Linked DNA regions of Homo sapiens. The protein of the gene in region 3 interacts with the protein of the main gene of each other region in a biochemical or structural test. Each region holds a gene or a part of one and is shown on either strand. Other genes may lie near its edges.

Region 1 (3,965 bases), on a different chromosome or scaffold from region 3:
AAGAGCAAAGTGGTCCTAGGGGTTGGAAGCCCTCTAAATCCGGGCATCTTTGCCTCTAACATAAGACACTTTTGGCCCTCGGCCTCCGGGGACAGAGACTCATCCAAAACAACGCTTCTTTTGGAAGGGTCACAGAAAACGGCCTCGCCTGCGTCCTCAGCTTTGGGAGGAAAGAGGAGACCTGACCATGGTGGGAGCCAGCGACGGGTCTCACCACCCGCAGCACTGAGGCGTCAGGTGGGCGGCGCTTGGCTCTGCCAGGAAGCAGTATTGGCCAGCAGTACTCCGAGCTGTCTCCCACGCTCTAGACTATATTACCCGAGAAAGTCATCATGAGAAGATATTCTTAAATTAAAAATAAAACAAAACTGGATATTCATCCCCTCACAGGGTGCTCCAACTCAAAACTCAAGTGCACTATTTCTTAATTACCTGATTTTTCCTGATTAGTACCGAAAAAAATAGACCCTGATCAGCCTGGCCATCATGGCGAAACCCTGTCTCTACTAAAAATACAAAAATTAGCCGGGCGTGGTGGTGTAAGCCTGTAATCCCAGCTACTCAGGAGGCTGAGGTAGGAGAATCCCTGAAAAAAAGAGGAACCCAGGAACGACAGAATGAGACCCTCTCAAACAAAAACAAAAACAAAACAAAACAAAACACGCTAATTTAATTTTAAAAGTGAATTCGAATCATCCCACTGCCAGAAAGGTTTGAAACAAAGTGAGGAGAATCAGTTTTCATCTCTTCCCATATTATCAGTATTTATTAAGCATTTCCCACAAACATAACCCGAGCACAAGGCCCAGACCTTGAAAAGAAGACAGACCTGGGATGCACAGACCTGTTTGTAAATAACTGTTAGGTAATTTTTAAAATGTTAAATAAGATAACTGGTTTTCCAAACCCTCCAATCACATACGTTTTCATAATTTCTAAAGATGTGAAGGTCATACTGGCTCGTGAATAGTTGTTGGTTTCCAAGGCGCACCAGGCCACTGTGCTTGTCTTCAGCACAGCCTCTACCTCGGAACAGGAATTACGTCCACATCCTAAATAGAAAGTTCCGAATATCTTTGGTTTAGTGGTCACCCAGGGGTCCATCTTTCTCCCTCACCCCCAGATCCAGGCCCGTCCCCCCTTGCCTTCCCTGCCAGCAGTGTGGAACTGGAGCACAGGGACTCTTGCACTGCTCCTAAGCCAGCCCTGCCGCTGCTCGCCCTGCCTTGCAAGATGTTCTCTTCCTCAGAAGAAAGGGGTGCAAGTTATAAGATGTGCAGTAGTGAAGTGTGCAGCTAGAGAAGAGGAAGAGGAGGGATGAGAAGGGGAGGTAGAAGGAGGAGGAGGAGAAAGAAAGAGGTCAGGAAGAAAGAGGAGGAGGAAGAGGAGGGAGAAGAAGAGGAGGAGGAGGAAGAGGACGGGGAAGAAGGGGAGCAAGAGGAGGGGGAGGAAAGGAGAGCACGTGGAAGAGGAGGAAGAGGAAGAGGAGGGAGAAGAAGAGGAGGAGGGAGAGGAGGGGGAAGAAGAGGAGGAGGGAGAGGAGGGGGAAGAAGAGGAGGAGGAGGAGAAAGAGGAGGGGGAGGAAAGGAGAGCAGGAGGAAGAGGAAGAGGAGGGAAAAGAGGAGGGGGAGGAAAGGAGAGCAGGAGGAAGAGGAAGAGGAGGGAAAAGAAGAGGAGGAGGAGGAAGGGGAGGGGGAAGAGGAGGAGGAGGAAGAGGAGGACTCACTGTATTCCACTGGCATCAATTTCACGGGATCTTTGAAAACTCAAACATTTCCTTTCAATTATTTCTAAACTTAAAGGGGTCGCCCGAGTAAGAATGGCTTTATGGCAGATTAAGGTACTCGGCCCAGCTTCCCCGCTGTGTGTGTTAGGGAGCCTTCCAATGTGTATGGTACAGTTTCCATTGTCTTTGAAGAGCCGGCTTCTCTAAACAGGTCCCAAGGTGGAGTGCTGTAGGAGGGCAGGGATGTGCGCAACAGCCACAAACAACGCCAATCCAGTATCACTAAAAGAGGGCCCCAATACTACAAAAACCAATGGCTCTTTTTCTTCCGGAAGGCCTGCCGGCATCTACCCGCGGGGCCCCAACTGGCACATGCGCCTGAGAGAGCGGGTTTTCCCCTTCGGTCTAAGGTGGGCCCCGCAATTGCCGCCCCATTCAACTGCCAGGGCGGGTGGTCCACGCCCGGGGTCCTCCTAGGCCCTCTGCTCCTCCTCGGCGAGTGGTTGAAGCCCCTCAGCCAGGAGCAGCTCCTGCCTCTCATCGTGGTTCCTGCGGCCGCCGAGGCGCGACGCTGGAGGGCTGTGGCGACGCGCTAAGGCCAGGCGGCAGGCGGCCCTCTCGGGCGGCAACGGGGGCAGCGGGCGGCACAGCACCTCCGGGGGGCGGCGGCGGCGGCAGCGCCAGAAGCTCCTCGCCGGAGGTCACGGCGCAGTCCTGCTCAGGCTCCGCGACCCCGCCACCCCCGACAGCTGTCCCGCCGCCGCGCTTCTTGTCCTCCTCCTTTTTCCACTTCATGCGGCGGTTTTGGAACCAGATCTTGATGTGTCTCTCGGTCAAGTTCAACATGACAGCCAGCTCCACCCGGCGCGGCCGTGAGATGTACTTGTTGAATAGGAACTCCTTCTCCAGCTCTAGCAGCTGTGCGCGCGTGTAGGCCGTGCGCGTCCGCTTGTTCTCCTCCGGCTCCGCAGCGTAGGCGCCGCCTGCGGGCGACACAGGGCGTGAGTGTGGCCCCCGGAGCCCCGCACAGCCCCCACCCACGCAGCCCAACCCCTTCAAGGGGGGCCAGGGAGCCCTAGCCCTACCAGCTGCTCCCGCCGGAGCCACCAAGCCCCAGCATCCCATTTCAGCGCCTAGTGTAGGCGCGCGAAGCTCTTCCCTAGTAACTCAAGCCCTTCCTAATAAAGATAGCCTTTTTATTGGAGACCAAACTCGAGTCAGCTCTCGCCGTGAGCCTAAGCTTGGCTCTGCCAATGAGTGGTCCTTGAATGCGCTCATATAATCGGTGTTAATCAACTGATTGATGTTGATTTAAATGTATATAATAGTTAAACCGGCTGGATCCTACAAAGGCAATAAAACGCCTTTAATCCAGGGCTAAAAAAAACCTCCTGATGGTGACCCACAAATGTGAGAAATACATTTCGGATCGTTGTGTAGTTCACACACGGACACTGCAGGTCAGTTATACTGACAAATCTTAAGGACATAAAACAAACGTTTACCACGTATGATGCTATCTACTTTTCTCTCCATTATCTGCTATTTCGTTTAAAAAATACTAATCTCAACCTAGTAAATTGATTTTATGACCTGCGAATGGGTGCAACCTGCAGTTTGAAAATCTTTGTGCTAATGGAGACTGTGACACATTTTGTTATATCTGACCATGTGTTTCCTCTCTCTATAGTTATATCGTAATTAGTCCCAACCTGAGAGCCAGCAAATTCTCCATAATTGTTTTAACTTCAGCCGGACTTCTGCCCGCGAAGTGAAGGAATATTGTTCTGGGGGTCACGTTGGCCAGGGCAGAACTCTGGCAGCTCCAGACTCTACGCCCTGGATCCCAAATGCCCTCAGAGGTGTTGAGGGGAGACACAGGGGCCCTAGCCCAGCTGCAGAACCGACAGCCCTACGGAGGAGGTGGTAGTGGTGCAGAAACAAGCCTCTCGTGTCTCCAAGAGGCAACAGGACGCCCTGGCCCAGGAGGTTGGAGACCCACATTCACTGTTTGCCGCTGCGCTCAGCCAGGTCCCAATCTTTTCTTTTCTGTGGAAAATACTGACTGCACCCAGGCTGTGGACGCTGGCGCGGGAAGTTCCACCAAAGTTCCGGGGAGAGGCTTGTCTTAGAGCAAAGGCAGGGGACATTTCTCCTGTGAATGTTGGCTAAGCCTTAAGGAATTGAAAGGCGAGTGTGTGTGTGTTGGGGGCGGGTTTAATTTCGCGATGGAACCCTA
Region 2 (3,651 bases), on a different chromosome or scaffold from region 3:
TCCGCCTCTGCCTAAGGGAGGCTCCATTCTGTTCTGCTTGAGGGAGGCAAAGCTTGGAGGTCAAGGTCATAGGATGAGTGTTCTTCCTTTTTTTTTTTTTTTCTGAGACGGAGTCTTGCTCTGTTGCCCAGGCTGGAATGCAGTGGCACAATCTAGGCTTATTGCAACCTCCGCCTCCCGGGTTCAAGTGATTCTCCTGCCTCAGCCTCCTGAGTAGCTGGGATTACAGGCGTGCACCTCCATGCCCAGCTAATTTTTGTGTTTTTAGGAGAGACAGGTTTCAGCATGTTGGTCAGGCTGGTCTCACTCCTGACCTCATGATCCACCCACCTTGGCCTCCCAAAGTGCTGGGATTACAGGCGTAAGCCACCGCACCTGGCCATGATGAGTGTTCTTTCTAAAGCCACCTGGCAGCCATGTCTCCCTCTAACTCCAGGTCACCCGTGAGCCCTTGGACCACAAGTCATGGTAGGCTTGCCTAGCTTGAGGCTTCAGATGTGTGTGCTCACTCACACAGTGCCTGCTCATGGGATGCATTTGAGGAAATATTAGATAGTTTCTGGGCCTGAAGTCTCAGGCCCAGTGGTCAGGAACCACTTGACCCAATCATTGCCTACCCCCTGGTAAGGACTGGCCTGGATGGCCAGCAGGGAGCCCAGCTTTCCTTCCCAGGTGTCCCCTTGTCACCCCCGGCCCTGTCAAACCACAGCACTTGAAGAGTGAATCAGGACCCATACCTCGCAGGGGAGGATGAACTGGCACCACCACTTTTGGCATCAAATGAGTTGATTATTGGCTGCCCCTTTGCCCAGCAATTCCATTCTGAGAAATTCACCTGAAAGGAACTTCTGTCCATGCACAAGAACAGTCACAGCAGCACCATCGTAACAACAGAACACTGCAATCAACCAAATGTCACCTAAAGGAACCTGGATAGTGTGATTTACAGTGTGATATATTTACCCAACCAGATACTATCCAGCAGTGAGAACAAATAAAGGACAACTGCATGCATCAATGCAGATGACGCACAAAAACAGTGTTGAACAAAAGGGGCAAGCCATAGCAGAACAGATACAGCAGAATACCTTGTATATAAGCAATACATGGATTGGGGGAGATACAGAGGAGGTCAAACTCTAAGAAAAGGAGGGTACGATGAACAGAATTCGGGCTGGCAGATTCCTCCAGGGAGGACAGGGCAGTGATGGGGTGAAGACAAGGGCCTCCAGAGGAACAAACAAATTCTATCTCTTAACCTGGTGTCAGGGATACAAGTATTTGTTATTTGTCTTAGTCTGGGATGTTATAACAAAATACCAGCCACTGGGTGGCTTATAAACAATAGAAATGTGTTTCTTAGAGTCCTGGAGGGTGGGAAATCCAAGATCAATGCACCAACAGCTTTGGTGTCTGGTGAGGGCCAGTTTCCTGGTTCATAGATGATGCCTTGTCACTGGGCTCCGTTGGGCTATTTTAGAAGGGCACTAATCCCAATCATATGGGCTCCACCCTCATACCTCATCACCTCCCAAGGGCCCCACCTCCTAATATCACTTTGGTGATTAGGTTTTAACATATGAATGGTGGGGTGACACAAACATGCAGACCATAGCATTTATTATTAGTTTATAAGCAGTATAAATATTTATTTATTTATTTATTTTTTTCTTTGAGATGCAGTCTCGCTCTGTCACCCAGGCTGGAGTGCAGTGGCACGATCTCGGATCACTGCAAGCTCTGCCTCCCGGGTTCACGCCATTCTCCTGCCTCAGCGTCCCGAGTAGTGGGGACTACAGGCACCCGTCACCACGCCCGGCTAATTTTTTGTATTTTTAGTAGAGATGGGGTTTCATCGTATTAGCCAGGATGGTCTCCATCTCCTGAACTCGTGATCCACCTGCCTCGGCCTCCCAAAGTGCTGGGATTACAGGCGTGAGCCACCGCGCCCGGCAGCGTATAAATATTTACATATCCTTTTCTATGTGTAAACTTGTGTAAATTGTCTGCAAGACAATAAAAATGATTTGAAAGTGAGTGAGGGTATAACCTGCTTGTTAGGCCTAAAGCCAAAAGGTCATAGGATCACAGGTGGTGGTCTTGTCCCTCTAGGAAAATGGACAGATGTCTAAAAGCTGCCCAAGGCATGCAGAAGTGGATGCCACAGGAGCTTATTGAGTCATTTAAGAGACAGCATGCTATGGTTTGAATGTTTGTCACCTCCGAAACTCATGTTGAAACTTAATTCCCGATGTGGCAGTATTGAGAGGTGGGGCCTTTAAGCGGTGACTGGGTCATGAAGGTTCTTCCCTCAATAATGGATTAATCCATTCATAGATTAATGGGTTATCATGGGAGTGAAACTAGTTAGGCTTTATAAGAAAAGAAAAAGACACCTGAGGTAGCACACTCAGCCCCTTACCATATGACGCCCGGTGCCGCCTCAATACTCTGCAAAGTCCCCACCAGCAAGAAGGGACTTGACTTTGGACTTCTCAGCCTCCAGAGCAGTAAGAAGAAAATTTTTTACCATATAAATTGCCCAGTTTCAGGTATTCTGTCACAAGCAACAGAAAATGGACTAAGAAACATCCAGTTATCTCCTTCTCGAAGCTGTCTCCGGTATTTAAGAGGAAACGTTAAAGACGCAGCCCCGTCACATCCCTCCATCAAATGGACTAAGACACATCCAGTTATCTCCTCCTCGAAGCTGTCTCCAGTATTTAAGAGGAAACGTTAAAGATGCAGCCCCTGTCACATCCCTCCATCAAAAAACATAGGCTGCCTCGTGGAATCAGAGTCCTTCCCAGCCTCCAGGTAGGTAAGGCTGGGGCTGGGGGCTGTGGGGCTGTGCTTTTAAAAGCCGTTTCTGTGGATTCTTGGTTCTGCTGAGTAGCCAGATCTGAGAACCAATGATCAGGTACTAAATATGCTGTCCCATGTGGTGGTCACCAGCCCCCGTGGCTACTGAGCACTAGAAATGTGGCTAATGGGACTGAGGACCTGGATTTTCAACTTCATTTAATTTTAATTATTTGAGGTGATAATAAAGTAATAAAGTTATTAGGAGCCTTTTTTTTTTTTTTGAGACGGAGTCTCGCTCTGTCGCCCAGGTTGGAAGGCAGTGGTGCGATCTCGGCTCACTGCAACCTCCACCACCTCCCGGGTTCAAGCAATTATCCTGCCTCAGCCTCCTGAGTAGCTGGGATTACAGGTGAGTGCCACCACATCCAGCTAATTTTTGTATTTTTAGTAGAGACGGGGTTTCACCATGTTGGCCAGGCTGGTCTCAAACTCCTGACCTCAGGTGATCCGCCCATCTCAGCCTCCCAAAGTGCTGGGATTACAGGTGTGAGCAACCACACCCAGCCTAGGAGACATTTAAGTGTGTTTGGAACAACTTGACTATGTGAACCTTCATTTTTAATTGTGAATTTTATAAAAGTAAATACAGATAGAGCATTTACTTAGAAATTGTGAATTGAGATATGCTGGAAGTATATGAGTACGAAAAGAGTATGCAAGATATCTTATTACTGATTTTTTTTGTATGTCACAGAATCCCCCAAAATCTTGGCTCACTGCAACCTCTGCCTCCTGGGCTCAAGTGATTCTCATGCCTCAGCCTCCCGAGTAGCTGGGACTACAGGC
Region 3 (3,088 bases):
CTCTCGGGGGACTTTAGAGAGGAAAGCAAAACGGAAAGGAAGATTGTGGTTCATTTGTAGGGCCTGAGTGGAGACTGTCTGCTGACGTGCCCGATCACTGTCTCATCTGCCTGTAAACCAAATGTGTCTATGTGTATGAAATAGACTTTATTAAGTCAGAAATAGATAGCAGGTGTTTTCCACTAACACCTACATGTATTTTAGAGAGGTGTGGTTGGAATGCATCTCTAGGTGAGTTCATGGTTAGAGAGTCGGATGATCACAGCACTGCTTGGACCCTCCTGGCCCTCTGCTGCAGTGCTCTGCTGCACCGCCCATATCTGCTCCATGTGGTTCTCTAGGAGGGAAGCTGATGCTGCCCCCACAGGAGAGGCACACGGGGTCCCTCACAGACCTGCTGCACCTGACCTGGTGGCCTGAGGCCAGGGCATTTGCTCGCAGTCACGCACGAGCTCCATGCCGTGCCTTGGGCTCTCGGGAGGGCCTCAGCATTGGGGAGAGGAGTGGCTGGGCTCTGGATCCTGGTGTCTGCTTAGGCCATATTTCATTAGGAGGTGCAGGTTCCAGGCTGCACACCCTGAGTCCTCAGAGCCCAGCAGCCTCAGCCTGCGCCAACCTCTCCATGCCAGGCAGCGTTGAGCTCTTCTGGGCCTGGATGCCCTGTGTGCAGAGTATGGAGGAAGTGAAAATGGGCTCTTCCCCGCTAGAACCTCCATGCATCTTCAGAGCCACCAAACAGCGTGAAATATCGAAGGGGGTTGGTCTAAGAAGGGCCGTGGAGTTTCCCTTCAGATCTAGTTTGGTTGCCCTAGAGCCTGGTGGGCGCTGGTGGGCTCTGCCTGCCCTGCAGTGGTTGTCGTGCCCTCCGTGCTGGAGGGAACTGCCTGTCCCCTGTCCACTGACCCATGATGCCTGCTGCATGGCTTGTCACCCCTTCCTGTACCCAGGCCGTGAAGCTTGGGGAGGGTGCAGGGGGGATCCAACCTGGGCGAGAGCTCAGTGCTGCTTGGCCACCTTGGCCCTGCCTCCCAGAGCTGTGGCTCCCACCCTCTCCCTGAGCGCCTGCCCTGCCAGGGCTCTGCCCTGCCTCCTGGCCTCTCCTTTCTGGCTGTGAGCGGTGTACTGCTCCTGGGCCTGCGGGGCTGCAGGCCTCCTCTCAGGAGCTCCTTCCTCCCTCCTGCGTCCTCTCCCCATCTCCCTGGATGAAAGGGTTTCTGAGTTCTTATTCTCAATCCCATCCTCAGGGCCCTGGCTTCTGTCTTGTCATCTTCATCTCCGTCTACTCCAGGGTCGGCAGACTGTGGCCTTAGGTCCCTCTTCCCCTTCCTCAGGCCCTGGCAGCTGCCATTCTGCTATTTTCTCTATGAATCTGACTACTCTAGGGACCTCCTATACGTGGAATCGTACAGCATTTGCCTTTTGGTGACTGGCTTATTTCACTTTGCATAAAGTCCTCAAGGTCCATCCATGTTGTGGCCTGTGCCAGCATCTTCCTTTTCAAGGCTGAATTTGATTGCGTTTTCTGGATATGCTGTACTTATTCATCTGTCAGTGGACATTTGTGTTGCTTCTACCTTTTGCTTCCATCTTTATGTTGTTCGTGATGCTGCTACAAACGTGTGTGCAAACATCCCCTGCCTCTTGTTTCTATAAATAAAGTTTTATTGGAATGGAGCTGTGCTCATTTGCTTATGTGTCGTCTGTAGCTGCCTTTGTCCTACATGACAGAGTTGAGTTGCAGTGGGGACCATGTGGCCCAAAACCTGAAATATTTACTATTTGACCCTTCACAGGAAAAGTTTGCCAACCTCTGTTCTGTTCTATTGGATATTTCTCTTCAGCTTCTAAACATCTTGAAATCTCTCTAAAAAACAGAAACAACACAAAAACAAAAACTGCTGAAACTGATTTTCTTGCTCTAGCCCCTACAGCTCTCATCCGTCCGCTCAGCTTCCCTGCGGTCTGTGCTAGCCACCCCACCACCCTGCTGACTCAGCCTGGGGGCCCGACTTTCACCCACGCTGCTGCTCTGGCCTCTGTGATCTGCCCTCTTGAGCCCTCCCCTCCCCTCCCCTCCCCTCCCTCCCAGCCCCTCTTCTCCGAGTCCAGCCCGGGGCTCTGTCCGTGCCACTCTTCTCACTGCTGTGGTTTCTCTTGGCTCCCTTGTCTAATTCTGGTTCTGAGAACAGGCTGCTGCTTCCCAGACCTCTTCTGGGGACAGACCCCCAGCTGCGGACCTGGAGACGCATGGCCTTGGCCAGTGCAGGGGCAGGGCTGTGGGTGCTGGTGACCTGGCTCTGGTGCGTGCTTGGCAGCAACTTCACCTCACCAAGCCTTGCTCTTCTGTGCAAAATGAAAGTCATATTTATCTTGCTAGGTTGTTGTGAGGATTTGGGTTAAGCCATGTAAAATGCTGGTACAGCATTGGCATCTCTAGGTACCCAATAGATGGTAGCATGGATGAGGATGTTTACGGTGACAGGAAATAAATGGTAGCATGGATGAGGATGTTTACGGTGACAGGAAATAAATGGTAGCGTGGATGAGGATGTTTACGGCGACAGGAAATAAATGGTAGCGTGGATGAGGATGTTTACGGTGACAGGAAATAAATGGTAGCGTGGATGAGGATGTTTACGGTGACAGGAAATAAATGGTAGCGTGGATGAGGATGTTTACGGCGACAGGAAGTAACAATAGTCCTTTGGGTGTCTTCTCCCTGAAGCTTGCTCCTCCATTTGGCCCACTGTGTGAACACCCACCTTCACCACGTCCTTCTTGTTTGCTTTCATCCTTCGGTGTTTTTCCCTGTTCAGTCTCGTCCTGCAGCACCCTTCACATCGTCGCCACAGCCATCTTCCTAAAGGGCATGTGTGTCCATGGTCACACCAAGCCCGTTCACACCAAGATCGTGAACATGCCTGATCACGTCTGAAGGGCACGTGACCCTGTTCTGAAGTGGCCTGCAGCTCCCGTGGCCCTCAGCAAAGCCAATGGACGTGTACTCTGCTTCCTCCAGGAAGCCCTCCCCCCGCTCCCCCCTCTGGTAGACACGTCTTGTGGTTGGTGTCCACAAGGAAGTTCCTGA

Evidence for each region.
Region 1: of the proteins of PASK (region 3) and PDX1, one has a biochemical effect on the other in vitro, tested with the Homo sapiens proteins (one study listed by IntAct).
Region 2: of the proteins of PASK (region 3) and FXN, one has a biochemical effect on the other in vitro, tested with the Homo sapiens proteins (one study listed by IntAct).

Annotation. Positions count from the first base shown.
Region 1 is NC_000013.11:27,923,000-27,926,964, reverse strand, and holds the end of PDX1 (pancreas/duodenum homeobox protein 1), read right to left. Parts: intron 2,710-3,965; coding exon 2,264-2,709; 3' UTR 652-2,263; downstream 1-651. UniProt on the Homo sapiens protein: Activates insulin, somatostatin, glucokinase, islet amyloid polypeptide and glucose transporter type 2 gene transcription. Particularly involved in glucose-dependent regulation of insulin gene transcription.
Region 2 is NC_000009.12:69,038,691-69,042,341, reverse strand, and holds part of FXN (frataxin, mitochondrial isoform 1 preproprotein), read right to left. Parts: intron 1-3,651.
Region 3 is NC_000002.12:241,108,536-241,111,623, reverse strand, and holds part of PASK (PAS domain-containing serine/threonine-protein kinase), read left to right. Parts: intron 1-2,725; coding exon of another isoform or gene 2,726-2,925; exon of another isoform or gene 2,926-3,088. UniProt on the Homo sapiens protein: Serine/threonine-protein kinase involved in energy homeostasis and protein translation. Phosphorylates EEF1A1, GYS1, PDX1 and RPS6.